Linked DNA regions of Homo sapiens. The protein of the gene in region 4 interacts with the protein of the main gene of each other region in a pairwise test. Each region holds a gene or a part of one and is shown on either strand. Other genes may lie near its edges. The genes, in order: CAMK2B, HP, PLSCR1, MVP, RNF111, SAXO1 and PSTPIP1.

Region 1 (4,318 bases), on a different chromosome or scaffold from region 4:
ACATGGGAGCTTTTGTGTCCTTGATATCCAGGCCCCTGAAGAAGGGCATGATCCCTGATGGAGGGAAAGGAGGGGGGCCCAACATGAAGAGGTGCCCGGGTCGGGAAACCTGCTGGCTGAGGACAAGCTGTCCTGGCAGTTCCAGAGACAAAGGGGAGGTGGTGGGCAGGGCCTGGGCTTGGAGGGGTCTGCACGAGCCAAGAGCCTCTGCAAGTCAGGCCTTCCAGGTGCCCTGACATGAACAGGAGCCTTTGCATTGCCTGTGGCTCTCTTGGGGTGAGGCAACAGGTCCAGGCAGGCCTAATGCGTCCAGGTGGGGTCAGAGCAGGTTCTCATCCTGGCCTGGACTCCTGGGACCCCAGGCTGGCCCCAAGCCCATCTCTCAGAGCCAGAGGTGGCTGCGGGAGGGAGGGCAGCTGCCCAGGGATCAGGCTGGATTGTGTATAATCCGCGATTAGAGAGCGTGGGTGGGGAGGAGACGGGGCCTGAGGCGGGCCGTGGGCACCTGCCCTATTTACACAGCTGGTGGGTGCCTTCTGGAGAAAGGAGGTGGAAAGGAGGCAGAAAGCTGGCCACCTGCCACCTGGGCCCAGGTGCCCCCAGGGCAGTACCCAGACTCTTCCTTTCCCTGAGTTCCGGAACATCTCACCCACCCCTTTCCCAGCCCTGCCCAGCCCCTCCCAGGAGGGCCACACGAATCTCCATCCTGCCCTGCTCACAGCTCCTTCCTGCAGCCCCCTCCTCCCCAGCCAAGCTCAGGGAAGACTCTGGAAGGGCAGGTCTGTGCTGTGGCCCCTGAAGGTGAGCCTGGACACCGAGCCCCGAGCTGGCCACTCCACACCCACCCTGGGCCCTGTCCTCAGAGGACTCACCCCAGATACTGCACAGACCTTGAGGGCAGGCTGCAGTCCTGGGCTGGGGTCATGCCAACCTGATGGGGTGACCTTCCAGGCAGGCTCCTTTGGGCACACCCCTCCACTTCTGCAAGGGCAGCAAGCCCCTTAAAATCAGATGAGCTGCTGTAGAAGTGGCAGGTGTCGGGGGTTCTGACCACTCCCAGAGGCTCTGCGGTGCACCCACCCCAGCTGCACGGCGGCCCCTCCCCATGCCTCCCTCCTTGAGTTCTGGTCGCCCAGGCACCCCGACCCTATCAGCATCAAGAACCTGGCCTCTCCCCTCAGCTGCTTGCCTCTGATCCCCTCAGTCAACCCCTGCTGGGGGTCCTCAGCCGACCACAGAAGCTCTGGGGGTGAGTACCCCTCCAGGGGCTGCCCCCTGCTCTCTCGGGCACCCAGGGTGGATCCAGTGCCCCTTTGAGCCTGCAGCCTGCATCCCCCTCCTCGAGCCGCTGCTCCTGTGGGTTCACTCTCCCCACACCCTTCTGCCCTGGCCGCCTGCAGCAGCCCCCAGGCCCAGCCTGCAGAGGGGACGGTGGCAAGCAGACCCCACCTGTCCCTCAAGTACTTACCTAGCCACTGCCCTGCCATGCCGAGCCCGTGGCCCAGCAGCCTCTTCTCTAAGAGTATCTCCACACCACCCCCAGTCTGGTGTCTCCCCACAGGTGGGGGTGGCAGCAGCCCTGGGATGTCATCCATCCCTGTAAGTGATACTGCGGGTAGTCGGCAGACAGACCGGGAGGTGGCCCAGCCTGGCTCCTCCCTGGCCGGGGAGGCTGCCCAGCCTGTGCTTCCTGTCCCGCCCGCTCTGTTTCAGCCTGGCCCCAGCTGCCCCCCAGATCCGCGCCTCCCGATCCCCACCTGCTCCCTGCTGTCTGGACTTGGACAGCTCTAATGCTAGAGCGTCTCAGGCCGGGACTGACACTTTTCTGTCCCGGCCCAGCAGGTCCACCTTGACCCAAGCCAGCAGCTCCTGGCGTGCTAGCCCTTGCCACACGCGCAGACCCTTTGCCACCCATTCCCCTCCCATCAGGAGAAAGCTGTGGACCTCAGGGTTGCGAATGCTGGGGTCGGCAACAAACCTGCTCTTTCGGACGCTCTTCCTATACACATATGTCATACACACTTCATAACCATAACCTCCATTTTCTGAGACCCAGTGGCACCTTCATGTGCTTCAAAGCAATTCCCTGGGACCCAGCAGAGGGATCCTGTGCCCCGCCCTCCTCCGCAAGAATGGCCCTTCCCAGAGCACCACTGCCAGGCTCGCACGCCCCGAGCCCCTCCGGGCAGCCGCTGCCACGGCCACTCAAGGTGCTACTTACATGGGGTGGGCAGGGGGCCAGGGATAGTCGGAGATGGGCAGGGCGGGGGCCCCACTGGCGAGGGGCCCTCGGCTTCTGGGGTCCCTGAGCCCCTCCTCACAGAGTTCAGGATGTCAGAGATCCTGGGGGCTGGGGCGGAACAGACGAGACGTGAACACAAGGCAGGCACGGGGGGCACGCAGGAGAGAAACCATGGGCAGACAGCCAAGCCAGAGATTGAGGGGCACAGAGGCAGATGTGGGGGATGGGGCACAAGGGGACAGAGGGGAGGAAGGGAGAATGGGGGGGTGTGGGGGGAAGATGGTGGACCTGGGCCGACAGAGGGGATATAGGGGAAAGAAGGGGATGTGGGGGATGGAGGGGAGCTTGGGGGACAGAGAGGGAAACGGGAAATGGAGGAGACGTGGGAGACAGAAGGGAACGTGGGGGACAGAGGGGCATGTGGGGGGACAAAGTGGGGGTGTAGGGGATGGGGGGCATGAGGGGACCAAGGTGGGTGTGGGGGACAGAGGGGGGTGTGGAAGACAGAGGGGGTGTGGGGGACAGAAGGGGTCATGGGGGATGGGGGTGCGTGAGGGGACCAAGGTGGATGTGGGGGACAGAGGGAGTGTGGAGGACAGAGGGGGATGTGGGGGACAGAGAGAGGTGCAGGGGACAGAGGAGGGTGCAGGGGACAGAGGAGGGTGCAGGGGACAGAGGGGGATGTGGGGGACAGAGGGGAAGTGGAAGACAGAGGGGGTGTGGGGGACAGAAGGCGGTGTGGGGAACAGAGGGGGAGGTGGGGGACAGAGGAGAGTATGGGGGACAGAGGGGGTGTGGGGGACAGAAGGGGGTGTGGAAGACAGGAGGTGTGGGGGACAGACGGAGTGTGGGGGACAGAGGGAGAGTCTGGGGGACAGAGGGGGTGTGGGGGACAGGAGGGGGTGTGGAAGACAGAGGAAGTGTGGGGGACAGAAGGGGGTATGGGGGGCAGGGGGTGGAGGACAGAGGAGGGTGTGGGGGACAGAGGGGGATATGGGGGACAGAGGGAGTGTAGGGGACAGAGGAGGGTCTGGGGGGCAGAGGGAGAGTGTGGGGGACAGGGGGTGTGGGGGACAGAGGGAGTGTGGGGGACAGAGGAGGGTCTGGAGGACAGAGGGAGAGTGTAGGGAACAGAGGGGGTGTGGGGGACAGAAAAGGGCGTGAAGGGACCAAGGTGGGTGTGGGGGACAGAGGGGTATATGGGGGACAGAGGAGGGTGTGGGGGACAGAGGGAGAGTCTGGGGGACAGAGGAGGGTGTGGGGGACAGAGGGAGAATGTGAGGGGCAGAGCAGAGTTTGGGGAGGAAAATGGAAATGAGGGAAAGAGGGGAATTTGGGGGACAGAGGGGGATGTAGGGATAGAGCGTGGACTTAGGGGGACGTGGAGAGGTTGTAGGCTGACCGAGGGGGATATGGGGGGACGGAGGGAGACAGGGGGACAGAGGGTGCTGCTGCGGACAGCGTGGTGCGTGGAGAGGAGGCTGCAGGAGTGAAGGGCAGATGCTCTGGCTGTCGGGTGGCGTGGGCTGAAGCTGCTGGGGGCAGAGGGCACCCTCCAGGGAGAGGCTGCTGGCCAGCAAGAAGCTGTCAGGTAAGTGGCCCTTGAGGAACGCTGGACGGGGTTACAGGGAGAGGAGGGAGTCACGGGCGTTACAGAGGAGGCCTGGCCTGGCCCCATGAGGACAGCCCAGGTCAGCAGAGGCCAGGCTTATGATTCTCCGTACTATCCCCTTGTTGGTGAGCTCCAGAGACCCTGGTCGGGGTTCCAGTTTTGGCACCTTCCTCAGCCTCCTAGACTGAGGGAGGGTGCTCAGGGGTTGGGGCCACATCAGGAACCAGGGTGGCCCTGAGTGCAGCTCCTGGGCACCATGGGCAGGGCCCCTGGGTGGGTGTGAAGTCTGTGGGGCTGGGACAGTGATCAGCAGAGAGGGCCTAGGGGCATGGGGGGCCTCGGAGGGGCCAGGGCTGCCCAGGGCTGGGACAGACATTTTGGAGAGGGGCCTGGGGCTGGACAGCGAGCGGGGAGTGGCAGTGGGAGCAGGAGCCGTGGAGGGGTCTGGGCCCCTTAGGGAGAAG
Region 2 (4,869 bases), about 42 Mb from region 4:
CAGTAGGAAAAGCAGCTTCTACTGATGCAGGGACTCTACCTCCCCACTCTTTATGGAATACCAGAAGGTTATTGCTGATAGGGACATTAGCCATCGCCTGGCTCAAGTCCTTCATGGAAGAGACCAGGAACTGATGGCCAGGAAACCTAAATTACTTAGCAAATTTATGGGCCATTCTGTGATTTGGACTCAGTAAGTCCAGAGATCCTGCCTTTACATCATTGTCTTTTGTTTTCTGGAGTGCTGGTAGGTTAGATCCCAAACTCTGAAGTACTGTCTGTGTTAAAACACTTTTTCCCCATCCCATTTTGAGCTAGCCTCTTCCTCAACCAGGCCCATGCCTTTTCTCCTAATTCACTTTGAGGAGGCAACAGCATGCAGTGAAAGGACCTCTGAGTTTGTATCAAACAGACCTGGGTTCAAAGTTCTGCTTCCCTGTTTCATAGCTATGTAACCTTAAGCAACTCACTTACCATCTCTGAGTCTCTGTTTCCTTGTCTGTAAAACAAGGACAACAGTTAACTTTCTGGGACCTAGCATTCAATAGGCACTCAATCAGTGAGCATGATTCCCTAAGGTGGAAGAGTTTGTATCACCTTCGGGATTTCCAGTGGGTTTAGGGTGTTTTCTGCCATACTCCCAGTAGACTCTATACCTTCTGACTACCCTGGACCATAAAGGAGCAAATAAAAAAGACTCAAGACTGAACACAACACAGAAATGGGTCAAAAGAAAGCTCTTTATTGATTGACTCAGCAATGCAGGGCTGGCACCCATCAGCTTCAAACCACATCTTATCGCATCCACTCCTGTCCACTCCCGTCCACTTTGCCCTCTTCCAGGCTGAAATCTTGCTTTCAGGCAAGGGCTTCCGGCCAGCCTTGCATTAGTTCTCAGCTATGGTCTTCTGAACCCAGTCCTGGATGGAAGTCACCTTCACATACACACCATACTCAGCCACAGCACAGCTCTTATCAAAGCTTAAGATCCCAGTCGCATACCAGGTGTCCTCCTCCAGGTCGTGAACGGCAAAGGCACTGCCCGCATCGCCATAGCAGGTGTCTTCTTGGTACTTAGACATGCCAGCACAGAAGGTGTGTTCATTCAGTATGGGCTGCACCCCTACAGGGCTCTTCGGTGTCTTCTTTTCGGGGACTGTGCTGCCTTCATAATGCCTTATGCATTGGTCTTGGTCAGCCACAGGCAGCATGACATACTTCAGATGGTCAGTAAATTTAAAATTGGCATTTCGCCCCCAGCCAGAAACATAACCCACACGCCCTACTTCTGCATAATCCTTTGAAGGTAGGCAGATGGGCATCACTCTCTCATTAACAGACACCTTCTGTTTGAGTTTGATGAGCCCAATATCTACCTGGGAGTAGTTAGGGTGTAGAACAACCTTCTCAATCTCTACAAGCTGCTTTTTCCCCACATAGAGTGTTAAAGTAGGGGCAATGTCTTTCGCTGTTGCATTTTCTGAATGGTTCAGGAAGAGATTTTTAGCCGTGGTCAGCAGCCATTGTTCATTGATCAGCGTGGCACCTGTGGTGAGATTATGGTGGGAAACCATCTTAGCCTGCCAGGGAAAGCTGCCTTTGGCATCCAGGTGTCCACCCAGGATCCGCTGCACTGGGTTTGCCGGATTCTTGGGCTTCCCACATACTGTCAAGGAGAGCAAGACACTCGTGAGTGGAAATGTGCAAGAGCCTTTCCATCTGAGAAAGGGGTGAAAGCATGGGCGGCTGTCACTGCTGCGTAAAGTAGAAAGATTTAAATGCTTTGCCCTTACCACCTGCTGATCTCATTTCCAATAGTTGCAGTTTTAAAATAATTCTGTTTTTTAAATTGTTTACATTACAAAAAGCTCTATTTCCCACTTTTCTAACAAAGGAAGTGGGAAATACTGAGATTTTTGAGCCCTGGCTGGTGAACTGTATTATATTTAAACAATTATCCCAATAAAGGAATTTCCACAATTCCCTGAAATTCATTGAAAGGGCTAGGGGCTACAATAATTCATTCTCTCTAAAGAAAGATGAATCTAGAGCAGCACTGGCTGGAGCTCAGATTTTGTAGATGGTGCAGTTAATACGAGGCAGGTTGGCATTTCCACACCAGTAAGAGCAGAAGAGGCTGGGCCTTTGCCTCTTGTTCTGAGAATGAAAGGAGAGAGCAACAGCTCCTCCTAATAACGAGAAGCAGGAGTTCCAGCCCATGTCCAGCCTCCTGCTAGGCTTCCATGGATTAAGATTTTATGTCATTCCTTGACTTGTTCTCCCTGGAGCTTGCTTCTCCTTAGACCCAGGGCTCTCTAGCAGGCTCTCTGTATGCACAGGCTCTCCTAATCTGTGGGCGATGTAGACAATGGATTCAGCCAGTGCCCTTCAGGCCCTAATGAACAAGACCCTTGGTGACCCTTAGGGAGTCATCACCTAACTGCTTAAGTCTCTCCCTGGCCAGCTGCGGTTCTCCCACATCCCTCCTCCTGGCTCTTGTGTGCTCAGAGGAAGCCGCACTGGAAGGCTGTGCCTCTAGGACGTTCCCCGCTGGACGCCTGCCTGCTCTCTTAAGTGCTCAGCACCCACCTGCTTCACATTCAGGAAGTTTATCTCCAACAGCCTTATTTATCCACTGCTTCTCATTGTTTAAGGTGTACACTCCTGAAACAAAAGGCAAGAAGTGAGCCAAAGGAGAAGTCAAGTCTAGACCCCGTGCAGAGTGAGAAGGCATTTAAAGAGAAGAACTAAAAGGAAGAGGAAAAGGGGACAAAAAGGAAGGGGAAAAGGAGAGAGTATATGAGAAGGAGGAAGGGAAAGAGTGCTGTGCTGGAAGCCAAGTGCCTGGATGCCAGTTAAGCCCAGCAGAACACACTGTGGTCATGGCGGTCACAGCCAAGCAGTACAGGGAGGGCTCAGGGTTCAAATCCTGACTCTGCCTCTTACAGGCTGCCTGAATTTGGGCAAGATACTCAACCTGTCTGTGCCTCAGTTTCCTTATCAGCAAAGTGAAAACAATAAACTCTGTTCAGAGGGATACTGTGAGGACTAAGTGAGCAAATAAGTATAAAGCCCTTAGAGCAGTGCCAGGACAGCAAGACTCACTAGGTGAGGGTGACATCATCATCAGCATTCCTTCTTTTCCCACATCTGCTGGAGATGTAAATGTGACTCTGAGATTTACATGAGGTAGGCTGCATGGCATCGCCTCCCCTTAACAAAACAGAAAACTTGAGGCTGACAAAAGTTAGTCTGCCCAAAGGGCCATGGCTACTGGCGACAAAACGCTTATTAGAATCTAAATCTCCTGGCTCCAAGGAGAGCAACGAACTTTCTGGCGAATCACCTCAGCACCACCCATCATGGAAATGTCAGAGAAGGGGGTTGTATGTAGGGCATGGAGACAGTTGTCCACATCTTACCATCTCCTTCTGTGCGCAGTTTGTAGTAGTTCTTACACTGGTAGCGAACCGAGTGCTCCACATAGCCATGTGCAATCTCGGGGGGCTTCGGGCAGCCGTCATCTGCAAAGAGAGAGAAGCCAGAGAGTTTGCTATTTGGAAATTGTTCCCAGTGAACCGTGAAAAGTCAGATGAGCGGGAGCTGCTCTGCACATCAATCTCCTTCCACCCCGAATAGAAGCTCGCGAACTGTATTATTTTTAAACAATTATCCCAATAAAGGAATTTCCACAATTCCCTGAAATTCATTGAAAGGGCTAGGGGCTACAATAATTCATTCTCTCTAAAGAAAGATGAATCTAGAGCAGCACTGGCTGGAGCTCAGATTTTGTAGATGGTGCAGTTAATACGAGGCAGGTTGGCATTTCCACACCAGTAAGAGCAGAAGAGGCTGGGTCTTTGCCTCTGGTTCTGAGAATGAAAGGAGAGAGCAACAGCTCCTCCTAATAACGAGAAGCAGGAGTTCCAGCCCATGTCCAGCCTCCTGCTAGGCTTCCATGGATTAAGATTTTATGTCATTCCTTGACTTGTTCTCCCTGGAGCTTGCTTCTCCTTAGACCCAGGGCTTTCTAGCAGGCTCTCTGTATGCACAGGCTCTCCTGATCTGTGGGCAGTGCCGACAGTGGATTCAGCCAGTGCCCTTCAGGCCCCAATGAACAAGACCCTTGGTGACCCTTAGGGAGTCATCACCTAACTGCTTAAGTCTCTCCCTGGCCAGCTGCGGTTCTCCCACATCCCTCCTCCTGGCTCTTGTGTGCTCAGAGGAAGCCGCACTGGAAGGCTGTGCCTCTAGGACGTTCCCCGCTGGACGCCTGCCTGCTCTCTTAAGTGCTCAGTGCTCAGCACCCACCTGCTTCACATTCAGGAAGTTTATCTCCAACAGCCTTATTTATCCACTGCTTCTTATCATTTAAGGTGTATACTCCTGAAACAAAAGGCAAGAAATGAGCCAAAGGAAAAGTCAAGTCTGCACCCAGAGCAGAGTGAGAAGGCATTTAAGGAGAAGAATTAAAAAGAAGAAGAAGAAAGGAGGCAGACAGGAAGGGAGAAAGGAGAGAGAATATGAGAAGGAGGAAGGGAAAGAGTGCTGTGCTGGAAGCCAAGTGCCTGGACACCAGTTAAGCCCAGCAGAACACACTGTGGTCATGGCGGTCACAGCCAAGCAGTACAGGGAGGGCTCAGGGTTCAAATCCTGACTCTGCCTCTTACAGGCTGCCTGAATTTGGGCAAGATACTCAACCTGTCTGTGCCTCAGTTTCCTTATCAGCAAAGTGAAAACAATAAACTCTGTTCAGAGGGATACTGTGAGGACTAAGTGAGCAAATAAGTATAAAGCCCTTAGAGCAGTGCCAGGACAGCAAGACTCACTAGGTGAGGGTGACATCATCATCAGCATTCCTTCTTTTCCC
Region 3 (4,318 bases), on a different chromosome or scaffold from region 4:
ACTTTGTAATGAATTTGACAGGCGTAAAAGAGAGAGGAATGTCATAAGAAAGAAGACGACTAGGAAAGGCTGTTAGCAAAGCAACAGGAAGCTGTTCATCAAAGGAGGCCTTAGTAAGGAGTCTGGATTTGGTTCCAATTATGATTGGCAAGTACTGGAGGAATTTAAGCAGAAGAATGAGTTCCATGGTCTTATCTATATCTTACAAAATTTTCAGGAGTGGAAAAGCATTAGAATTTACAATGGAAAACACAGATGCAATCCCTGCCCATCATTGTTTAATGAGAGAGACAACTTTATATCCCCACTTATTCTAGGGAGCTATAATACCAGTGTAATTAATTGATTCATTAGAATTGGAGATAAATGCTTTCAAGTAAGAGACCACGGTTTTATGACTAGAGATGCCAAAGGTCGCTATTGAGATGGGAAGAGAAAAAGGGAAGGAGCAGGAACAGCTGCCTTGAGGGGTCACCTTTATGCTGAGATCTGAAGGATGCACAGGAGTTCAGGAGGCCAGAGTCACAGAAAGAACATTTCAGAGCAACGTCCTGGGACAGTAACTAACATAGGCCTTTAAAAATCTGAAAAATAGCCAGTCTAGCTGAATAACAGCAAGCCAGGCTCAAGAGGAAGTTAAAGAGAGAGCATGGAAAAGGCCATCCTGAGTTTAGTGTTAGCCTTTATCCTAAAAGTAATAGGCCACTAATAAAATAGGGGCTCTACACTCTCTGTAATATGAGCAGATTTACATTTTTAAAGATCACTGGGGTCAGCACAGAAACCAGACCATAGGCAGACCAGTGGGGATATGGAGATGTGAGTTAATTTCTTACATTTTTAACATCATCATAATTTTCCCCAGACTCTGAAAGTATGATGGATTACTCCTCAAATCAATGAATTAAGCATAAAGAATTACCTGAAATTTGAATACTAGTATCATTTATGTAAAGACTAATTGATTTAAAATATTTTAAATATGTTAGCAAATACTTGTCATTTATAATTTGCAAGCATTGTGCTCAGTGTTTTACATATACTCTCATTTACTCTACAAAGCAACCTACATTGAAAATATCACCCTTATTTATAGATAGGAACTCTGAGGCTTTGAGGTACTGCAACTTGTTTAAACTACCACATAACTATTAGTACAGAAGGCAGAACCTGGTTTACCAGCACATTTACCTATACGAATTTTTTTTTTAAAGTAGGCAGAACTTGAAGCCTGATACAAACTTCCTATGCCTCAGCTTTCCCACATACATAATGGGGATAACTGACAGTATTTACCTCATAAGAGTATTCTAAGAATTAAAAGTGTTAGTCCACATTAACTCCACATTTAAAACAATGACTAAAGCATGGTAAGATCTCAATTTTAAATTATCCTTACTCTTAGCATCGTTATCTTAAGACTTGTGCTATATGTAATCTTGGACTTGAGAAACAAAATCAAGCTGTAGAGCCATATATATCTATATATATAAACAAACTCTCAAGTCTGATTATATCTGAACTGTATTATTTATGTATATCTACTTTTAATTAGTGATAGGGTGGATTAAATCATTCTCTTAAGTGCCTTGGATGAATATTATAGACTTACTAATGATTTTTCAAACACCAACCCTATAAGAATTTAGAGCAGATGTTCTCAACCCTGGCTTCACCTTAGAATCACTTGGGGTGTTAAAAGATTACTATTCCTTGAGTCCCACCACTGGAAGCTATGATTTAATTTTTCTGGAATAGTGCCTTTGCACTACTATTTTTAAGTGCTTCTGGGTGATGATACTTCAGTGCAGACAAGGTTGCCATGAGCCACCACTTGAGAGTCTGAGCTTATCTAGCTCATATTCTTTCAGTTGCAAACATCTGGATGAGATCCGGGACCCGCAGGGAGGTTTCTTGCTAGGCAATTAAACATGACATTCAGCTCCTAAGCACATTTGTTTACTCAGAGAAGAAAACACAGTGGGTACATCCTTCTATCCAAACCACATTCCCTTTGGTCCTAAATCCTCAGGATGCTCTTTCAAGATGTGGGTAGCCTGTCTGCTTGTAAATCTGGACATGCCATGGACTTTGCTATTTTTAAAGTTCTAGTAGTTTTGATAACTGCATTTGCCTAAATGAAAATCTCTGAATTCTTTCAGGCATTGGTTGAAAAGAAAAAATGTACTCAATTATGTATGTAGTCAAATGACTCAATTACTTTTCTTAGAAATACAGGGTGGAATCAGCATATATATAAAAATAAAGCTTTCATATACATTATAAAATTAAAATGAGAATTATTCCCAGGTAACTGAATTTCTATTACTTTCAGTTTTAAGCAGTCTTACTATTTTGATGTGACTCTCACTGAACACATGCCAAGCTACTACATGACTCAGTTTATCAGAAATAAATTTCCTAAATGTGATTAAATGATCATAATTTTCAGAACAGATGGAGGATCAATAAAATATTTTACTTAACATTTGTATTTTAGGATGTACAGTCTTGTATTTCATTTGCTAAATGTAAACCTAATGTTGTTTTTACTAGCTTTCTTTATACCTTTACTGTCCTCTATAAATAAAAATTACTTCTGTGCAAAATGATAGCCAAATAAAAATAATCAAGAACAACTAGGCTGCCAAAATTTCATTAATATAATTTTAAAAAAAGAACTACTAAAATAAAAACAAATGCACAATTCTCTCTCTCTCTTACTCTCTCTCTCCCACTCTCACTCTCTCTCTCTGTCTCTCAATTAATTTTACTTTTTCTTCTTTCAGCAACTGCTTTACCTTGGAATGCTGTCGGTGGATACTGAGGAGGATACCCAACTGGCAAGTTTGTTTCCGGGTGAGAAGCATTCATCTGTGAGTCTGCAATTCAAGGAGAGGTAAATAGATGTCTGATTAAATAAAATATATATTAGAAAGAAACAATGTATTGTACTTAGATAATTGTAACTTGTATGTTCTTATGCTGTATTGAAATAGGGAAAGTAAAATTTTCACTTAACGTAAGCTGTGCCTGTTCTCAGAGCTAATTTGCAACTAGCAAATTTGTTTCAAACAAATTCTCCTTTAGATAAAATGAGACAGTTAAGTTACTGGGGCTGAATTACCAGTTTTTGAAACATCCCTGATGAATGTTCAGTTCCATGTTTTGTTGATAATAAAACAAAGATAGCTTTAAAATTACATACAGACTACGAAGAAAGAGATAAATGAAATTAATGGGATGTGAAGATGGTAGAATTATGGATGATTTTAAAGATATCTATCATCATTGCTGTAAGTATTATTTTAAATATTTAAAATAATGAATATACTTCAGTATTTATATATGTTATGCTTACTCTGGAACTACACCAATGAAGTTGAACCATATGAAATTCCCCAAATATGACTGTTTTTGACCCACAAAAGCCATGTTTAATTACAATACACTAGCATATTAAACTTTGTTATTTGCTAATAAGGCTTGAGTAAACTTAATATATGCACAAATGGTTCAACCTCCTAAATATTAATATTCATGTCTATCTAGTCATTCGGTTACCTACCGCAGCCAGTCTCTAAATATTTACTGAGCATGTCCTGTGTCACCCTTGAATTAGGCTCTGTGGCTACAATGGCTCTGCTTTCATACAGCTTAAGGTGCAGTAGACACTACACTTATCTCCTTATCTGTTTCCTTATGAATTACTAACTGTAAATTCAAAGTCTTTTGTTTTAGAATCATGGAGACATGGCATCAATATAGAAGAACATATAGGTCAAACTTTCACTGTAACACATTTTTCTGTATGTGTCTCTATTATGAACTTTCAAAGACCACTCAACTTGTGAATCGTGTGGTTTTATCAGGAAGATTGGATTGTTTCCCCCACCCCCTGCCCCGGCCTTTCTCCTTCATAAATAGCTTCATGATGACTTCAGCGGAATCCAGTCCATGGTGATTGTGTAAAATCAGGCAAAAAAACCGCTCTCCTACTCGTTCAAGACTAGCCTGGCCAACAAAATGAAACCCCATCTCTACTAAAAATACAAAAATTAGCCAGGCATGGTGGCACGCGCCTGTAGTCCCAGCAACTCAGGAGGCTGAGGCAGGAGAATCACTTAAACCCGGGAGGCGGAGGTTGCAGTGAGCCGAGATCGTGCCACTGCACTCCAGCCTGGGCGACAGAGCGAGACTCCATCTCAAATAAATAAATAAATAAATAAATAACACAAAACAACAACAAAAAACAAATGAGGACTTTTCCCTGGACAAACATTGCAACATACCTTGTGATTTGTGAATCATCACAAAT
Region 4 (4,318 bases):
GCAGTGCCGGTGGCAGTGTAGGGGGAAGTAGTTGATGGGAGTGAGGGAAAGGAATTGGCAAGGAACCCTGGGCCTCTGTGGCTCACTGCATCAAGCAGTTCTTGGCAAAGGTAAGGTCAGGATGGGCTGTGTCGTCTTGGGTGGGGTGAAGACAGGGAGCAGTGGGCATGCAGATGCGGACAGGGAAGGGTGCAGTGGCCTGGCTGGAGGAGGTAGGGCCGTATCCCACCCAGAGTCTGTCACCAGATTCATGCCTGCCCCACCCCAGGCTCCCCAGGTTCATCCTGTGTCGTCTCCCCCACCTACCAGTCATCTTCTTGTGAGCCCTGGGCTTAGGAGTCACCATGGCAACTGAAGAGTTCATCATCCGCATCCCCCCATACCACTATATCCATGTGCTGGACCAGAACAGCAACGTGTCCCGTGTGGAGGTCGGGCCAAAGACCTACATCCGGCAGGACAATGAGAGGTGGGTGTGGGGGCTGGGCTGTGGGGGATCCTTGGGGATGTGGGGGCCTGTTTGGCTGGCATGATGGTCCTTATCCTCCTCCCTCTTCCCAAGCAGGAGTGGCCCTCGCTTGGGCGATAGAGAGGTTTCTCTCTCATTTGGTGTCCTCTTTGGTAGTGGAGACCTGGTCCCAGGTCCTCACACCTCTTCTCATCTTCCTGCAGGGTACTGTTTGCCCCCATGCGCATGGTGACCGTCCCCCCACGTCACTACTGCACAGTGGCCAACCCTGTGTCTCGGGATGCCCAGGGCTTGGTGCTGTTTGATGTCACAGGGCAAGTTCGGCTTCGCCACGCTGACCTCGAGATCCGGCTGGCCCAGGACCCCTTCCCCCTGTACCCAGGGGAGGTGCTGGAAAAGGTACCTGGTTTCCTCACTCCCTATGCCCCACCCTACCTGTCCTCCACCTGCCTTGGGCTCTATACTGCTGCCTTCTTCTTCTTTTTTTCTTTTCTTTTTTGAGGCAGAGTTTCACTCTTGTCGCCCAGGCTGGAGTGCAGTGGCATAATCTCGGCTCACTGGAAGCTCCACCTGGGTTCAAGTGATTTTCCTGCCTCAGCTTCCTCAGTAGCTGGGATTACAGGCACCCGCCACCACGCCCGGCTAATTTTTGTATTTTTAGTAGAGACAGGGTTTCACCATGTTGGCCAGTCTGATCTCAAACTCCCGACCCCAGGTGATCCACCTGCCTCGGCCTCCCAAAGTGCTGGGATTACAGGCATGAGCCACTGTTCCCGGCCTGTACCGAGTTCTAAAGGGAAAACAAACCAGGGCAGTGGGAGGGGTGGGGAGAGACACTTGCTGGCTCTCACCAAGGGTGGAATTGACTCACTGTACCTCCACTCACCTCCAGCCACCCCCATCCTCCACACATGCCCCAAACACACCTGCCTCTTTTCTGAGAACTGTTGGCCCATCTCACCTTCCCAGGCTCCAGAGCCTACCAGAAGTGCCCAGCCAGTCTGGCATTAAATGACATGTGCCAAGGTTAAGCAGTTCATTCACCCGGTGCCAGACACTGGTGGGCAGTGCCAAAGCAGCAGTGACAAGCCCAGGCCCCAGGCTGTGCCTGTTCTAGGAGAAGCCATCACAGGCCTGAACCTACAGCCAGGCTCTTGTCCCCGTTGGCCTCAGGCCTGGGCCTGAGCAGGTGGGTGTCCCACCTTCATTCCTTTACCTGTTCTTCCACCTTTACCTTCTGGCCATTTAATGGTTTTGGGTTTTTTGTTTGTTTGTTTGTTTGTTTTTAATAGAGACGGGGTTTCACCGTGTTAGCCAGGATGGTCTTGATCTCCTGACCTCATGATCCGCCCGCCTCGGCCTCCCAAAGTGCTGGGATTACAGGCATGAGCCACCGTGTCCAGCCCCATTTAATGGTTTTCTTACTGACTTTACTAACCAGTGCTGCTTGATCCTGAAAGCATAATAGCAGAACATGGGGAACTTTTAGAGACATTCATGTCCACTTAGGTGCAGACAGTTTGGGGGAAGAAGTGTGTGTGTAGAGAGAAAATGAAGAATGATTAAGACAATAACCCTTAAGGAATCCAAGTGAAAAGTATATAGGGATTCTTGTACCTTTTTTTTTTTTTTTTTTTTTTTGAGATGGAGTCTCACTCTGTTGCCCAGGCTGGAGTACAGTGGCATAATCTCGGCTAACTGGAAGCTCTGCCTCCCAGGTTCACGCAATTCTCCTGCCTCAGCCTCCCGAGTAGCTGGGACTACAGGCGCCCACCACCACACCCGGCTAACTTTTTGTGTTTTTAGTAGAGATGGGGTTTCACCGTGTTAGCCAGGGTGGTCTCGATCTCCTGACGTCATGATCCACCTGCCTTGGCCTCCCAAAGTGCTGGGATTACAGGCGTGAGCCACCGCGCCTGGCCTTTTTTTTTTTTTTTTTTTCTGGATCTCCCCCTGTTGCCTAGACGAGAGTGCAGTGGGGTGATCATAGCTCACTGCAGCCTCAACCTCCTGGGCTCAAACGATCCTTCCACCTCATTCTCCCAAAATGCTGGGATTGCAGGTGTGAGCCACCAAGCCCTGCCTAAGCTTTCATTTTAAATATGTTCAGCCGGGCACAGTGGCTCACGCCTGTAATCCCAGCACTTTGGGAGGCCAAGGTAGGCAGATCACTTGAGGTCAGGAGTTTGAGACCAGGCTGGCCAACATGGCGAAAACCCATCTCTACTAAACATACAACAATTAGCCAGGCGTGGTGGCATGCGCCTGTAATCCCAGCTACTTGGGAGGCTGAGGCATGAGAATTACTTGAACCTGGGAGGCGGAGATTGCAGTGAGCTGAGATTGCGCCACTGCGCTCCAGCCTGGGTGACAGAGCAAGACTCTGTCTCAAAAAAAAAAAAAAAAATTAGCTGGGGGTGGTGACACACCTGTAATCCCAGCCACTCAGGAGGCTGAGACAGAAGGATCACATGAGCCTGGGAGATTGAGACTGTTGTGAGCCATGGTTGTACCACTGCAGTCCAGCCTGGATGACATAGGAAGACCCCATCTCCAAAAATAAAAAAAAGCCAGCTCTTCCTTTGAGCCCCAGTTTCAGTTCAAAGGGCCTTCTCTAACTTCTCCTTCATCTGAACTCCTGAGACAGGGTCTTGCTCTGCTGCCCAGGCTGAAGTGCAGTGGTGCAGTCATAGCTCACTGAAGCCTTAACCTCCTGGGCTCAAGTGATCCTCCCACCTCAGCCTCCCGAGTAGCTGGGACTACAGGTGTGCGCCGCCACCATGCCTGGCTACACTTTTTTTTTTTTTTTTTTTTTTTAGAGATGGGATCTTGCTATGTTGCCCAGGCTGGTTCTTGAATGTCTGAGGTCAAGCAATCCTCCTACCTCAGTCTCCCAAAGTTCTGGGATGACAGGTGTGAGCCACTGTGCCCGGCCTCCACCCCAGTCTTATTTCAGGACATACAGAGATGGATGTTGTGGACCCGCCTCCAGAGCATCAGGCTTGGCCCTGGGGTCACAGCACTGATGGTTCTGTGTCTCCACCTTCTTCCCCACTAGGACATCACACCCCTGCAGGTGGTTCTGCCCAACACTGCCCTCCATCTAAAGGCGCTGCTTGATTTTGAGGATAAAGATGGAGACAAGGTGGTGGCAGGAGATGAGTGGCTTTTCGAGGGACCTGGTAAGTTCTGTCTCCATAGGGCTCCCTGCCTTCCTGTCATAGCCCTGATACCTTCTGACCATCACCTTCCCTCCCCAGGCACGTACATCCCCCGGAAGGAAGTGGAGGTCGTGGAGATCATTCAGGCCACCATCATCAGGCAGAACCAGGCTCTGCGGCTCAGGGCCCGCAAGGAGTGCTGGGACCGGGACGGCAAGGAGAGGGTGACAGGTGGGGTCACCAAGGGGCGATGATGGTGGGTGGGCAGGAGGGGTCCCCACTGCAGGGGAAGCAGGGGAAGGTTGAGGAAAGCCTCCTGTAGCCCCAGAGAGGCGCTTTCCTGGTATCTTTTGAAAGCTGTTGAGGGCCACCCACTGCTCTTCCTTCCCCACCCCCGCTTCATGCTGTTTCCACTTGGGCTGGAAAATGTGACCATGACCATGCGGATGTGGCTTTTCCTTCCCTCACCTTCACCATGAGCTGTGGGCAGTGGCCATGACTTACCTGATTCTGGATCAACAAAGAAGATGTTCAAATACAATTGACAAATGTAGGCCAATAGGTACAGTGGCTCACACCTGTCATCCCAGCACTTTGCCAAGGTGGGTGAATCGTCTGAGCCCAGGAGCTTAAGACCAGCCTGAGCAACACAGTGAGACCCCATCTCTACAGAGAATTTAAAAATTAG
Region 5 (4,318 bases), on a different chromosome or scaffold from region 4:
GTAACAAAGCATATTGTCTGTATTATCTAGATATGAGTAGTAGTAGTTATAGGTAGTAGAAGAGAATATTCTTTCAGGCATTTGATTTAATATACTTAAGCTGGCACATAGTAAAATAAATAAGAGAATTAAAAATTTAATACACACCCCAAGTGATATCCCTGTAGTACAGGTATTATTTTTTTCACTTAATTATATTAAAAAGATAGTTAAATGGTAGACATATTTCTAGTTGATTTTCTGATAATCTCTAAAACTTTTGTAGAAAAATGCCAAGTCATCTATGGCTTTTTTTTTTTCTTTTTTCTTTTGTGTCGGAATTTTGCTCTTGTCTCCCAGGCTGGAGTGCAATGGCGCGATCTCGGCTCACCGCAACCGCTGCCTTGCGGATTCAAGCGATTCTCCTGCCTCAGCCTCCCGAGTAGCTGGGATTACAGGCATGTGCCACCACGCCTGGCTAACTTTGCATTTTTGGTGGAGACGGGTTTTTTCCATGTTGGTCAGGCTGGTCTCGAACTCCCAACCTCAGGTGATCTGCCTGCCTTAGCCGCCCAAAGTGCTGGGATTACAGGCGTGAGCCACTGTGCCCGGCCGGCTTTTTTTTTTTCTTTTAAAATCTTATTTCTTTAGAGTCATGTAAGCAATCATTACATTTTTATTTAAAGTTGAAACAAGTATTCATATTTATAATTGGTGGTGAAGCATCATACCAATAATAGTGTATCACAGTTTAGAAGTAGAGTTCCTCAGAGTTGTATGGATAGTCTTAATGGGTTTTTCCTCCTTTTGCTCACATAAACTTGTTTATGATGTGAATTACTAAATCCCAACCCTAATTTTTAGTTTTGAAAGTTAGTATTTTTTTTTAGCTATCGTATTTTCTTAGTGCAAGGTTTACTAATAGTGGTGTATTCTACACTAGTATCAGGAGTAATTAGCATGCAGTCATCATGACATAGCAATGAAATGATTGGATCGATCTACACAAAGAGGGACTAGTATTATGGTTTCAGTATTGAAACAGTGTGTAACAGCAAGCCATTTATAATGTCACCAAGGAGATATATCTTGTACGCATTTGCCTCCTTTGTAAATTAGATCAGCCAATAATTTTTACAAAAATAAAAGACTAGAATATGGTTTTATCAAACAGCAAATAATTTAGAATATTATCTGTTATATTTGCTGCTTTTTAAGTTAAATGCAATACTTGTGTTTATTTCCTTTTGAACTTTCCTCTTCTAAGTTCAAAATACAGCCTGATACAATTACAGGGATGGATTTTAGAAAAAAAAATTTAGAACATGATACAATACAGCGATGGATTTTAGAAAAAAAAATAGTATGAATTACTCCCTGGGTGGGAACCTCTTAGTTATATGGGATATTAATTTTGCATTTAATGACTGCATGATATGTTAACTCAGAGAAGAGTTAACTGGTGTACAAACACACACCACAGCATACACCAAACCACCCCCCCTTGCTCTCCTCTACCCTTGTCTCATTGGACAGACTAAACTGATCAAAAATCAGAGCAGATTTAACCATAAAGAGTTGATTGCATTGTTTTGGCTTTGGGACATGAAATGATGGAAAAGAAATTGGGTTTAGTTAATTGTGCTGTGAATTGCTTCTTTGTAAATTAATGTATGGCTGCATGTTCTCAGAATTTGTCTGGTTTTTGGCAAGTTTTCATTGCTTCTCATGATCTCCATTATCAACATGAGGACTTAGTAATTACGGATGAGGAGTCTAATTTTTAAATCTTCAGCCCATAAAGACTCCAAGATCTCCTCCTCTGAAATCCACCAGAACATAACTCTGACATGGGTTTCTGGAAGAACCCCAGCTGTTTCCAACATACATCATGAGACTTCTGTTGCTGATGGAGTCTCTGATGCCTAGAAATCTTGATACTTTTCCTCTTGACTTTTTCACTTTTTTTAAACCTCTTGACTTTCTGGCAGGAGTTTTATTGAGATTTTATTTCACTGGGTTTTTAGTATATTCACAGAGTTGAATAGCTGGCACCACAATCAGTTGTAGAACATTTTCAGTTCACTGAAAATAAAAGAAATTCTATACCTTTTTTTCTTTTTTTTTTTGGGAGACAGAGTCTTGCTCTGTTGCCCAGGCTGGAGTGCAATGGCGCAATCTCGGCTCACTGCAACCTATGTCTCCTGGGTTCAAGCGATTCTGCTGCGTCAGCCTCCTGAGTAGCTGGGATTACAGGTGCCTGCCACCATGCCTGGCTAATTTTTGTATTTTTAGTAAGACAGGGTTTCTTTTCACCATGTTGGTCAGGCTGGTCTCAAACTCCTAACCTCAGGTGATCCACCCGCTTCAGCCTCCCAAAGTGGTGGGATTACAGGCGTGAGCCACTGCACCTGGCCCACCTTTTTTTTTTTTTTTCCCCACTCTTGTTGTCCAAGCTGGAGTGCAGTGGTGTGATCTCAGCTCACTACAACCTCTGCCTCCCTGGTTCAAGCAATTCTCCTGCCTCAGCCTCCTGAGTAGCTGGGATTACAGGTGCACGCCACCATGCCCGGATAATTTTTTGTATTTTTAGTAGAGATGGGGTTTCACCATGTTGGCCAGGCTGGCCTCGAACTCCTGACCTCAGGTGATCTGCCCGCCTCGGCCTCCCAAAGTGTAGGGTTTGGCCACCGCGCCTGGCCAGAAACTCCATGCTTTTCGGCCATCATAGTTGAATCCTCCGATGATCCCCAGCCCTAGGTAACCACATTCTATCTATGTAGATTTGCCTATTCCAGACATTCCATATAAAGGGAATCTTACATTATGTTATCTTTTTGACTGGTTTCTTTTACTTAGCATATTGTTTATCCATGTTGTAGCTTGAGTCAGTATGGTAGTCTGCGCCCCTGTCCAAGGGGAAACCATTCTGAGTCCCCCAGTGGATGCCTGAAACCATATAGTGTTTTTTTTTTCATATACCTACATGCCTATGATAAAGTTTAATTTATAAATTAGGCAGAATAAGAGACTAACAACAACAATAAAGTAGCAAAATTCTAACAACATACTGTGATAAAACTTATGTGAATGTGGTCTCTCTCTCATAGTGTGAGTAACTGAAGCTGTGGAAAGTTAAACTGGATAGTGAGGGACTACCGTACTTCATTTCTTTCTATTGCTGAGTAATAATCTTTTGTATGGATTTATTTATTCATCAGTTGATTGGCATTTGTGTTCCCACTTTTTTGGCTGTTATGACTAATGTTGCTGTTTATAAGTTTTTTTATGAATATGTGTTTTCATTTCTCTTGGGTACATACCTAGGAGTGGAAATGCTAGGTCACATAGCAATTTTGTGTTTAATTTTTTTTTTTTTCTTGAGATAGAGTCTTGCTCTGTTGCTCAAGCTGGACTGTAGCGGTGCAGTCCCAGCTCACTGTAACCTCTGCCTCCCAGGTTCAAGCGATTCTCATGCTTCAGCCTCCCAAGTAGCTGGGATTACAGTCAGTGCGCCACTATCCTGGCTAATTTTTGTATTTTTAGTAGAGATGGGGTTTCACCATGTTGGCCAGGCTGATCTCGAACTCCTGGCCTCCAGTGATCCGCCCGCCTTGGCCTCCCAAAGTGGTGGGATTACAGACATGAGCCACCGCGCCCAGCTTGTATTTAATTTTTGAGGATCTGCTAGACCGCTTCCCAAAGTAGCTTGTATCATTTTACATTTCCATCAGCAATATATGAGGGTTCCAATGTTTTTTTTTTATGCATCCTCTCTAACACTTGTTATTACCTGTGTTCTTTATTACAGCCATCCTGTTTGGCCCCATTCAACTCTTAGATCACATGTACCTGTGTTTTATCATTGTGACTTCTGTGTTCTTGCCTTTAATTAAAGTGATCCTTGTCTGACTGGCTGCCTTCTGTAATTTGCTCATTGCCATGCTCATGTTCACTCATCTTTGTATTCCTGGTTTATCACTGATCCTGCTGAACTACAGATAGCGCGTGATGGCTGATCTTGGATACAGCACTGCCTGTGCTTGTGAATAAGAATAAAAGAAGATAGTGGTTTTGATAGCTTTCTGTAGGAATAGGTCATTCTATGCCTTAATTATTGTCATTTGTTCTGATAGTAAAGTTATATACTATAGTAACATGGGAGACCTGTAAGATTATATATTTCTGTAACCCATTTGTAGAGAGGGAAAATACTTGCTTACTAAACAGCTGTTGTACTCGCTTTTTAGGAACTGGTTTCAAAATGTATTTTATGGGCAAAACAAATCTGTGGTGTCAGAAGTTACAATAGTGGTTAACAGTTTGGTGGGCTGTAGTA
Region 6 (4,318 bases), on a different chromosome or scaffold from region 4:
AATAAAACAGAATAGTAGGGTATGCTATGCAGGGAGTACGTCTTTAATCCCCAGAGTCATTGTTTTGAAGACTTGCAAAGTTCAAAACTGAACAGCAACTTAACCTTAGTGTTTGTTAATGTCAGTATGAACTCACAAAGCCTAATAAATGCTGGACTCAAGTGTAGGCATCCCAGAAAGGGCAGAGAGCCTCCCAGAGTATAAGGAGTAGATGAAGTCTTTGCAAACCATTCTTATCATCAATATTTAATCAAGCCCCCCAAACACCAGATTACATCCCCCCCCACCCCCCCGCCCCACCGGAGTTAATTCTCTGCAGGGCATTTTTTATTACATGCAAGTTAGTAAACAATCCTAACTCTCTTCTCTAGGGTGCGAGCTCCACAGAGCTGCTGGCAGGATCTCCCACTCAGACTCAAGTGCTCAGGCAAGTACACTTCTTCATTCTTCATTGCCTAGAACAGACCTTTATGCTTATTTAATAACATCTACCTATGCCTTACTGTGGATGCACGCATTGTTCTACTTGCTTAATACTGATTCAATCCTCTCAATAACTCTGTTGAGTCAGGTTCTATCTCCCTTTTACTGATGAGAACGCTGAGGTACACAGAAATAGAAACTTCACTGTGAAATGGTTTAACATGACACAGTTAGGGAGCAGAAAGGCTGGGATTTGAACCAAGATAGGCTGGCTCCACAGTCTGCGCTTGGAACTGCAATACTCTGCCACTTCTCGTAGTCAATCATCACTTAATCATGTGTTAAATCAAGTTAAGAAAAGTGACAAGAATGGAATGGAGATAATATATCTTTAAGGAAATATTAGCAAACTACAAATCCACTCAGAAAAACCAAAACATTAACAGATTTAAAGTCAGCCTAATTCAGATATTGGGCATTTCTGAAGAAGAAAGAAGGAAGGAAGGGAGGGAGGAAAGCAAGGAAAGGAAAGAAAGGAAGGAAAGGGAGGAAAGGAACGAAGGAACGAACAAAGGGGGCCAGGCACAGTAGCTCCTCACACCAGCACTTTGGGAGTCCGAGGTGGGAAGATTGCTTGAGCCCAGGAGTTTGAGACTAACCTAGGCAACATAGTGACACCTCATCTCTATATTTTAAAAAAGAAGAAGAAATGCTACTCTTTAAGGCTTTTTTTTTTTTTTTTTTTTTTTTTTTTTTGCGGGGGAAAAGACTATTTATCTATGTTACTCTCCAGCTCAAAATCCATCCATGGCTCTTTGCTGGCGAGTTCACATTCTGAGACATGTAAGAGTCCCTCTGCAATTTGCCTCCAGCAAGCTTCCGGCACGATCTCCTGCAGGCTCAAGTACTCAGGCAGACATGATGTCTTCCGTGTCTCTCTGACTGCCCTGCCCTGCAGCAAGGGCAGCCGCACTAAACCCCAACATACCCTTTCCTCCAGGGCCTGTGCTCCTCTCCCGCCTAATCCTCACACCAACCTTAAGAATATCGCAAGGACAAAAAACCAAACACCGCATGTTCTCACTCATAGGTGGGAACTGAACAATGAGAACACATGGACACAGGAAGGGGAACATCACACACCGGGGACAGTTGTGGGGTGGGGCGAGGGGGGGAGGGATAGCATTAGGAGATATACCTAATGCTAAATGACGAGTTAATGGGTGCAGCACACCAACATGGCACATGTATAGATATGTAACTAACCTGCACGTTGTGCACATGTACCCTAAAACTTAAAGTATAATAATAATAAAATTTAAAAAAAAGTGGCAGAGCCAGCATTTGAAACCAGGCAGTCTCACTCCAGCTTCACTTTCCTCATCACTTCTCCATCCTAAAGCCTTCCCCGGCTACCCCATCCCAAAGCGCCTCTCCCACCCCTCACATCCTACATCACTTGTTTTATTGGTCTCATTCATCTAAGGGTAGCTGTTTCCACCCCTCCACCACCCATCCCGAGACATGTCATCTTTCCAAATAAACTATAAATCACCTGAAGGTCAGTAATAAATATTTTAATATCAATGGAGGGAATGACGTTTAAAACTGCCCACTACAGAACAGAATCAGAACATGTTACTCTGAACGGATCCATCTGCAGACTATAAGGTCGAATAGATCATGTTTACTGCTGTAATTGGAATATGAAGTTGTACTCTAATAATATCTGAAATTTGACATATACCCACTTGTACTCATTTTATAAGATGAAAGGTATTTATGAACAATTAAACATTAATTCTGATATCCAAAAAAGGCCATTTTTAAGGAGCATAACATAGCTTAACATGAAAAGTACATGAAATCTACAATAAAAATTCAATCTTAACGTGAAAGTTTTTCTTTTTTTTCTTGGCATCTCTATCTGGATTCTGCTAAAGATAAGTCATCAGCAAGTATCTGTTAAAGGCTGTTCTTTGTGTTTTTTTTCCTTAATCAGAATTTATGAAGTCAATTTTATTTAAATTAAAAATAAGAATTCTTCTTAAAACATGTAATATGAAACCAAGTCCTCAATTTTTTTTCCTTCCTCTTAATGTGTAACAGAGACTCTAAGAAAATAAAATCTAAGGTTAAGGAAATTTCCATCGATATGAAGAAAATATTTTCCAAAATTAAAATAACAAGTTCCTCCCTGGTTAACATAACTGATTTAAGTTGCAGATACATGGCTGCCCCTGAGATCACCTTCCTCCACAAGCTCTGTGAAAGGGCCAAATCCACATCCTTTTCAGCAATTTTTGAGTCCTCTATGGGACTACCTTTTTTATGAAATGCTGCACATACTACCAATGCTTCATAAATATTTCATGATACATTAACCAGTCCTGGAATTTCCTGCAAGATTGCACAAAATCTTTAAAATGGTGCACTGTAAGCTGTAAAATAATCAGATATAAAAGTAAGCTATATCAATCCCTTCATTAACAATTTTTTACAAGAATTTTAGAAAAAGTAGTGTTACTACATTTTAATCTCAGGAGGGAGATTTGCTATTTATATTACTTTACTAAAAGGCTTTTAGAATTACACTTTTTTTTTTATATCAGATACTATTTTCTCAGTTGGACCAGAGCCTTCATATTGTACTCTACAATCAAAAATGGCCCATTGTGGGAGTTGGGGGAACTAATTAAGTTGGTTAATGGATACAAAAATAAGTTGGATAGAAGAAATAAATTACAGTGTTTGATAATACAGTAGGGTGACTATAGTTATAATTTGCCATATATTTCAAAATAGCTAGAAGATTATTTGTAAGCTTCCCAATACAAATAAATGATCAATGTGTGAAGTGATAGATATGCTAATTACCCTAATTTGATTGTTACATGTTATATGAATATATCAAAATGTCACTTGTACCCCAGAAATATGTACAATCATTATGTATCAATTTTTTAAATGGTCCAGTGTGACTCGAAAATAGACCAGACTATAAATTTTAACACCTAGCAGTGTCTGATACCCAGTAAAATATGAATAAAATTTAATTGATTGACCTAAATTGTGCCTGAAGCTTAACATGTTCCCATATATTAAAATTAATCTCAATGTTTCTATTTCCTTATCTGTAAAATAAAAGAGCTAGAGACCACTAAGATCCCTTTCAGCTTTAAAAGTCTGATTAACGTTTTACTTTACAGCAACCCTGCCTTGCGCCACCCACTCCCCCACCTAACCACAGTTTCAAATTTAGTCATCTGGGAAAGAACAGCTCAATAGACTGAAAACATCGCCAGGGAAAAGAGAGGCTAAAATCAAGGAATCGAATTTCCAAACTAAGCAATGCTTCCCATGTTGAGGGACCCACAGTAAGATAATAATATATGGGAAAATACTTTTTGAATTTTCAAAATACTGTAAAGATGGAAGGTGGTTTAATATTATAAAATGCTGGGCCGGGCGTGGTAGCTCACACCTGTAGTCTGAGCACTTTGGGAGGCTGAGGTGGGTGGATCACAAGGTCAGGAGTTCAAGACCAGCCTGGCCAACATGGTGAAACCCCATCTCTACTAAAAATTCAAAAACTAGAAAAGAAGATGGCAACCGTGTGGGATGAGGCCAAGCAAGATGGAACTGGGGTGGAGGTGCTCAACATGTCCACGGAGGAGATCATCCAGCGCACATGGCTTCTGGACAGTGAGATCAAGATCATGAAGAGTTAACTGTTGAGAGTCACCCATGAGCTCCAAGCCATGAAGGACAAGATCAAAGAGAACAGTGAGAAAATCAATGTGAACAAAACCCTGGTGTACCTTGTCTCCAACATCATCGAGCTCCTGGATGTTGATCCCAATGATCAAGAGGAGGATGGTCCAAATATTGACCT
Region 7 (4,318 bases), on a different chromosome or scaffold from region 4:
ATTTTCCAGGGAAGGAGGCATTTCTGGGTGAAAGAGTGGGGCCAGTTCTCCAGCCATGGGTACTAGCAGTCACTTTGGGATCCCCCATAGTCCTCTGGTTGGGCAGGAGCTTTTTCACACAGGAAGGAGGGACCCCAGAATGGCCTGGAAGGGTCAGGGCCTGTGGATGGGGCCCTGCTGGAAACCAGAGCCTGCACTGACTTTGTGGAAGGCCTTGCAGCCCAGCAAACTGCTGTGGCTTTGAGGGCCAAGGAGGCCAGTGGCTGAGGAGTGGCCCTGGTGCACTCAGAGCTTGCAGACAGTGCAGGAGGTGGGAGAGAGAGGCCCTGGCCATCCTGCCTTTGCTGCCACCAAGTACCTTCCCGGCACCTGCCTGGCTGCATCTGTCAGAAGCAGTGAGGACGGAGGCTCTCCCTTTCCTGATTGGGAAAGCTCTTTAAGACCTGGTGTTCCCTGTAAAAAGCAGAGAGCCTGGCAGTGCACCTGGTCGGCAACCCGTTGTGAAAAGTGGGGAAATAAGCATTTATACTGGCGCAGGCTTGTAGTATTAACAACAAAAATCTGTGGACGGATGCACAGGGAGCTAATTAAAGTGGTTGCCTGTTGGGAGAATGAGAGAAAGGAGATGGATGAGGGATGAGGCTGAGCGGCTGTGAACGTTTTCAGGATTGATGTTTTTATACTGTTTGATTTTTGAACCATATGAATGTATTAATTATTCAAAAATTAAATCAAACAATTAAAAATGAAAAAGAGGACATTTATTTCAAGTCCCATGAAGAATTTTTCCCTGAATCCCAGCTACTTACATCATCCCCTGAGGAGCAGCAATGCTGCCATTTGCTGAGTGCCTGTTCCATGCCAGGCATGCTGCCATTCAGTCCACATGCCCCCAAACGCATTGTCAGTGTCTTCCTGACTCTGTGATGGGACCTAAGGCACGGCAGGTCTAGGCCCAGACGAGGGTCACCTGTGCAGGGTAGAGCAGGGACTCCCACCTAGGTCTGTCGAACTCTATTGCCCTCTGCCCTGAATTCTAGAGAGTTTGTTCTTGCTTCTACTTTAATTTGTGTAGGATGAAAGGATGCTTCCCTACATGTTAACACTGGTGTCTATGGATTTGGAAGTAGGATTCTCTCCATCCCCCATCTAATTTTCTGCAAGTCAATACAGAGTACCTTTGTCATTAAAAAGAAAATATTTAAAAAGAAAACTAAGCAATTCCTGCTTTCAAGAATGAGTTGGTGTTTCTAGGCCAAATTTGTGGTTTGCTAGCATGCCCTTTTCCACATGCTCGGTGCATATTTTGTGGTACGTGGGCCTCTGGGGACCAAGAACTTCGTTCATCTGTGCCCATTCCACAGGACGTGGCCGGCTGCTCAGGTGTTAGAAGATTGCAGAGGTTTGTGGTCATGCTTGCTTTGCTTTTGCGATGCCTGCAGATGGTCACTGCCAGGATTTGCTGGCTGCAGGGTTCTGGGTCGATTTGGTGTTCTGAATTCAATTTTATTCTTGATAAAAAACAAGATCTGCTTCTTGATGACCCACTTTGTGCTCCAGTCCCCTGGAACCCACATGCTTTTCCTGGCTGCTCCTGACATCTACACAGAACTAGGGCAGCCCCTGGGATGGAGAAGGAGGGCCTTGCTTTGGGCTTTGAAGGGTGGGTGAGGATTTGAGACATGTCAGGAGGACAAACGGCACTCAAGGTGGGAGGTACGGCATGGGCAAAGGTGTGGAAGGGGGTTTGGAAGACAGTTTTCTGGCCCAGAGCATTGTGCAAGGTGACTGGTAGGAAGGGAAGGCACGAGCTGGATTGTGAAAGGTCTCTGCCCTAAGTGGTGGCAGAGATACTTTCTTCTGCCTCTCTGCACCCTCTCTGGTGGTGGCTGTTTCCTCTCATGCAAAAGAGGACAGAGGCTGCGGGCTGTGAGTGGGATGCCCTTCCTCCTCACCCAGAGCCTGGCTGACGCTGCAAACCACATGATGGAGGGAACTTTGGGTGGAAACCAAGACTGCCTCTGCTTCCAGCTAGAGAGCATGATGCCCTGGGCCCTGGGCTGCCCACACCAGGACTCTCCTCTGGGTTGGCTCTGGAAGGTTCCTCCCTCACAGACTCAGTCATGCTCCATCCTCCAGGCTTAGAAGGAAATCGGCTTCTTGGGAGGCCGAGGCGGGTGGATCATCTGAGGTCAGGGGTTCGAGACCAGCCTGGCCACCATGGTGAAACCCTGTCTCTACTAAAACTACAAAAAAATTAGCGGGGCATGGTGGCGCATGCCTGTAATCCCAGCTACTCAGGAGGCTGAGGCAGGAGAATCGCTTGAACCCAGGAGGTGGAGGTTGCAGTGAGCTGAGGTTTCACAATTGCACTCCAGCCTGGGCAAAAGAACGAAACTCCGTCTCAAAAAAAAAAAAAGAAGAAGAAGGAAGCGGGCTTCTTTGAAGCCTCACCCAACCCTCACCCACACTTGCTAGGTGGCCTTGGAGAATCATTTTCCCTTTCTGAACCTCAGTTTCCTCATCTGCAGGATGTCAGGGTCGTCATCACTTAAGATAAGGGCTTTGAGGTTGGGGCGGCTCAGGGCAGTGCTAAGGGACCACCTCCTGCTCACCACAGTGGAGTAGCAGACCAGGAACAGTTCCCAGGGGACCCAGATTTATAATTGGATATGCACCCATAGGGTGAGCCTTATACATAGATCTTGCTGTTTCAGAATGCCTCCTCCAATCATGTTCACCATTGCATGTTATACTCCACCATTAGAGAATCATTCCTTTGGTTTCAAGTAACAAGATGATCTATGTTATCTCACTTAATTCCAACAATAGTCCTGTGAGGTCAGTATTCTTATTCCTGTTTTACAGAGAGGAAACTGAGCCTCTTGGAAGGAATGTGGGCCTGGGGGATGCCACACAGATGGATCGGACTGGGCTGGGCCTGGATGCCACCTTCCCAGGTCTGGGTCAGAGAGCCCTTTGCAGTTAATGGGAGGGTGTGTTGGTTTGCTGAGGCCTGGCACACTGAGCAATGGGTGATGGAACAGGCAGGAGAGCGACAGCTCCTTCCACTGGTGTTGACAGGCCACCCACCATTGGGCAACAGGAAGTGCCAGCTGGAGCCCTGGAGACCAGCAGCCAGTGTGGGGATGTGGTGGCCAGATGGAACTCAGGGCTTCCCAGCTGTGGAAACAGGAACGGGAAACAGCCACACTGGGGAGGAAGTCAGGGGGTGATGGGCTGAGGCAAGAGCATGCCTGCGTGGCTAGAGAGAGTGACCAAGGTGGAGAGTAGTTGGAGATAAGGTAAGAAATAGAACAGTGGCCAGGCGTGGTGGCTCACACCTGTAATCCCAGCACTTTGGGAGGCTGAGGTGGGAAGATCACTTGAACCCAGGAGTTCAAGACCAGTCTGGGCAACATGGTGAAACCACTTCTTAAAAAAAAAAAAAAGTACAAAAATTAGCTGTACCTGGTGGTGCACACCTGTAGTCTCAGCTACTTGGGAAGCTGGAGTGGAAGGGTCACTTGAGCCCAGGAGTTGGAAACTGTAGTGACTGTATGATCGCACCACTGCACTCCAGCCTGGGCAACAGAGCAAGACTGTCTCAAAACAAACAAACAAACAAACAAAAAAAACAAAGAAAGAAAAGAGAAGCAGAGAGCCAGATCTTGTAGGACTGTCATTCTAAAAAATCCCAATGCCCAGGCCACACCCCAGGTCAATTACACCCCGATTTCTGAGGGTAGGACCTGGACATCAGTATTTTTCAAAGTTCCCCAGTGCCTCCATGTGGAACTTTAGCTTGAGAGGCATCAACATAGATAATTGTGGTAATTAATTACCATTGCTGGCCAAGCATGGTGGCTCATGCCTATAATCCCAGCAGTTTGGGAGGCCAAGGTGGGCAGATCACCTGAGGTCGGGAGTTCAAGACCAGCCTGGCCAACATGGTGAAACCCTGTCTCTACTAAAAATACAAAAAATGTAGCCAGGTATGGTGGTGCATGCCTGTAATCCCAGCTACTTGAGAGGCAGAGGCAGGAGAATTGCTTGAACCTGGGAGGCAGAGGTTGCAGTGAGCCAAGATTGTGCCACTGCACTCCAGCCTGGGCAACAAGAGCAAACACTCAATATCAAAACAAAACAAAACAAAAATTACCATTGCTGACAATAGGCATACATCTGGTTTTTACCATTTTCCTGACCTCATTTGACTCACCTGAGTGAGCAGAGGTTAGAAGTTTTGGGGGTGGTGGTAATTATATGTAACATAAAATTGACCATTTTAACAATTTTTAAGTATATGATTCAGAGG

The links.
Region 1: the proteins of MVP (region 4) and CAMK2B interact in a two-hybrid assay, tested with the Homo sapiens proteins (one large-scale study listed by BioGRID).
Region 2: the proteins of MVP (region 4) and HP interact in a two-hybrid assay, tested with the Homo sapiens proteins (one large-scale study listed by BioGRID and IntAct).
Region 3: the proteins of MVP (region 4) and PLSCR1 interact in a two-hybrid assay, tested with the Homo sapiens proteins (2 studies listed by BioGRID and IntAct).
Region 5: the proteins of MVP (region 4) and RNF111 interact in a two-hybrid assay, tested with the Homo sapiens proteins (one large-scale study listed by BioGRID).
Region 6: the proteins of MVP (region 4) and SAXO1 interact in a two-hybrid assay, tested with the Homo sapiens proteins (one large-scale study listed by BioGRID).
Region 7: the proteins of MVP (region 4) and PSTPIP1 interact in a two-hybrid assay, tested with the Homo sapiens proteins (one large-scale study listed by BioGRID).

What each region holds. Positions count from the first base shown.
Region 1 is NC_000007.14:44,224,295-44,228,612, forward strand, and holds part of CAMK2B (calcium/calmodulin-dependent protein kinase type II subunit beta), read right to left. Parts: intron 2,351-4,318; coding exon 2,222-2,350; intron 1,598-2,221; coding exon of another isoform or gene 1,469-1,597; intron 1,020-1,468; coding exon of another isoform or gene 922-1,019; exon of another isoform or gene 891-921; intron 1-890. UniProt on the Homo sapiens protein: Calcium/calmodulin-dependent protein kinase that functions autonomously after Ca(2+)/calmodulin-binding and autophosphorylation, and is involved in dendritic spine and synapse formation, neuronal plasticity and regulation of sarcoplasmic reticulum Ca(2+) transport in skeletal muscle.
Region 2 is NC_000016.10:72,056,908-72,061,776, reverse strand, and holds the end of HP (haptoglobin isoform 1 preproprotein), read right to left. Parts: intron 4,386-4,869; coding exon 4,311-4,385; intron 3,524-4,310; coding exon 3,422-3,523; intron 2,664-3,421; coding exon 2,589-2,663; intron 1,666-2,588; coding exon 887-1,665; 3' UTR 722-886; downstream 1-721. UniProt on the Homo sapiens protein: As a result of hemolysis, hemoglobin is found to accumulate in the kidney and is secreted in the urine. Haptoglobin captures, and combines with free plasma hemoglobin to allow hepatic recycling of heme iron and to prevent kidney damage.
Region 3 is NC_000003.12:146,530,669-146,534,986, forward strand, and holds part of PLSCR1 (phospholipid scramblase 1), read right to left. Parts: intron 2,883-4,318; coding exon 2,802-2,882; intron 1-2,801. UniProt on the Homo sapiens protein: Catalyzes calcium-induced ATP-independent rapid bidirectional and non-specific movement of phospholipids (lipid scrambling or lipid flip-flop) between the inner and outer leaflet of the plasma membrane resulting in collapse of the phospholipid asymmetry which leads to phosphatidylserine externalization on the cell surface.
Region 4 is NC_000016.10:29,830,206-29,834,523, forward strand, and holds part of MVP (major vault protein), read left to right. Parts: intron 1-268; exon of another isoform or gene 269-309; 5' UTR 310-344; coding exon 345-469; intron 470-672; coding exon 673-868; intron 869-3,527; coding exon 3,528-3,651; intron 3,652-3,729; coding exon 3,730-3,861; intron 3,862-4,318. UniProt on the Homo sapiens protein: Required for normal vault structure. Vaults are multi-subunit structures that may act as scaffolds for proteins involved in signal transduction. Vaults may also play a role in nucleo-cytoplasmic transport.
Region 5 is NC_000015.10:59,025,437-59,029,754, forward strand, and holds part of RNF111 (E3 ubiquitin-protein ligase Arkadia), read left to right. Parts: intron 1-4,318. UniProt on the Homo sapiens protein: E3 ubiquitin-protein ligase. Required for mesoderm patterning during embryonic development. Acts as an enhancer of the transcriptional responses of the SMAD2/SMAD3 effectors, which are activated downstream of BMP.
Region 6 is NC_000009.12:19,022,864-19,027,181, forward strand, and holds part of SAXO1 (stabilizer of axonemal microtubules 1), read right to left. Parts: intron 1-4,318. UniProt on the Homo sapiens protein: May play a role in the regulation of cilium length. Stabilizes microtubules at low temperature.
Region 7 is NC_000015.10:77,001,250-77,005,567, forward strand, and holds part of PSTPIP1 (proline-serine-threonine phosphatase-interacting protein 1), read left to right. Parts: intron 1-4,318. UniProt on the Homo sapiens protein: Involved in regulation of the actin cytoskeleton. May regulate WAS actin-bundling activity. Bridges the interaction between ABL1 and PTPN18 leading to ABL1 dephosphorylation.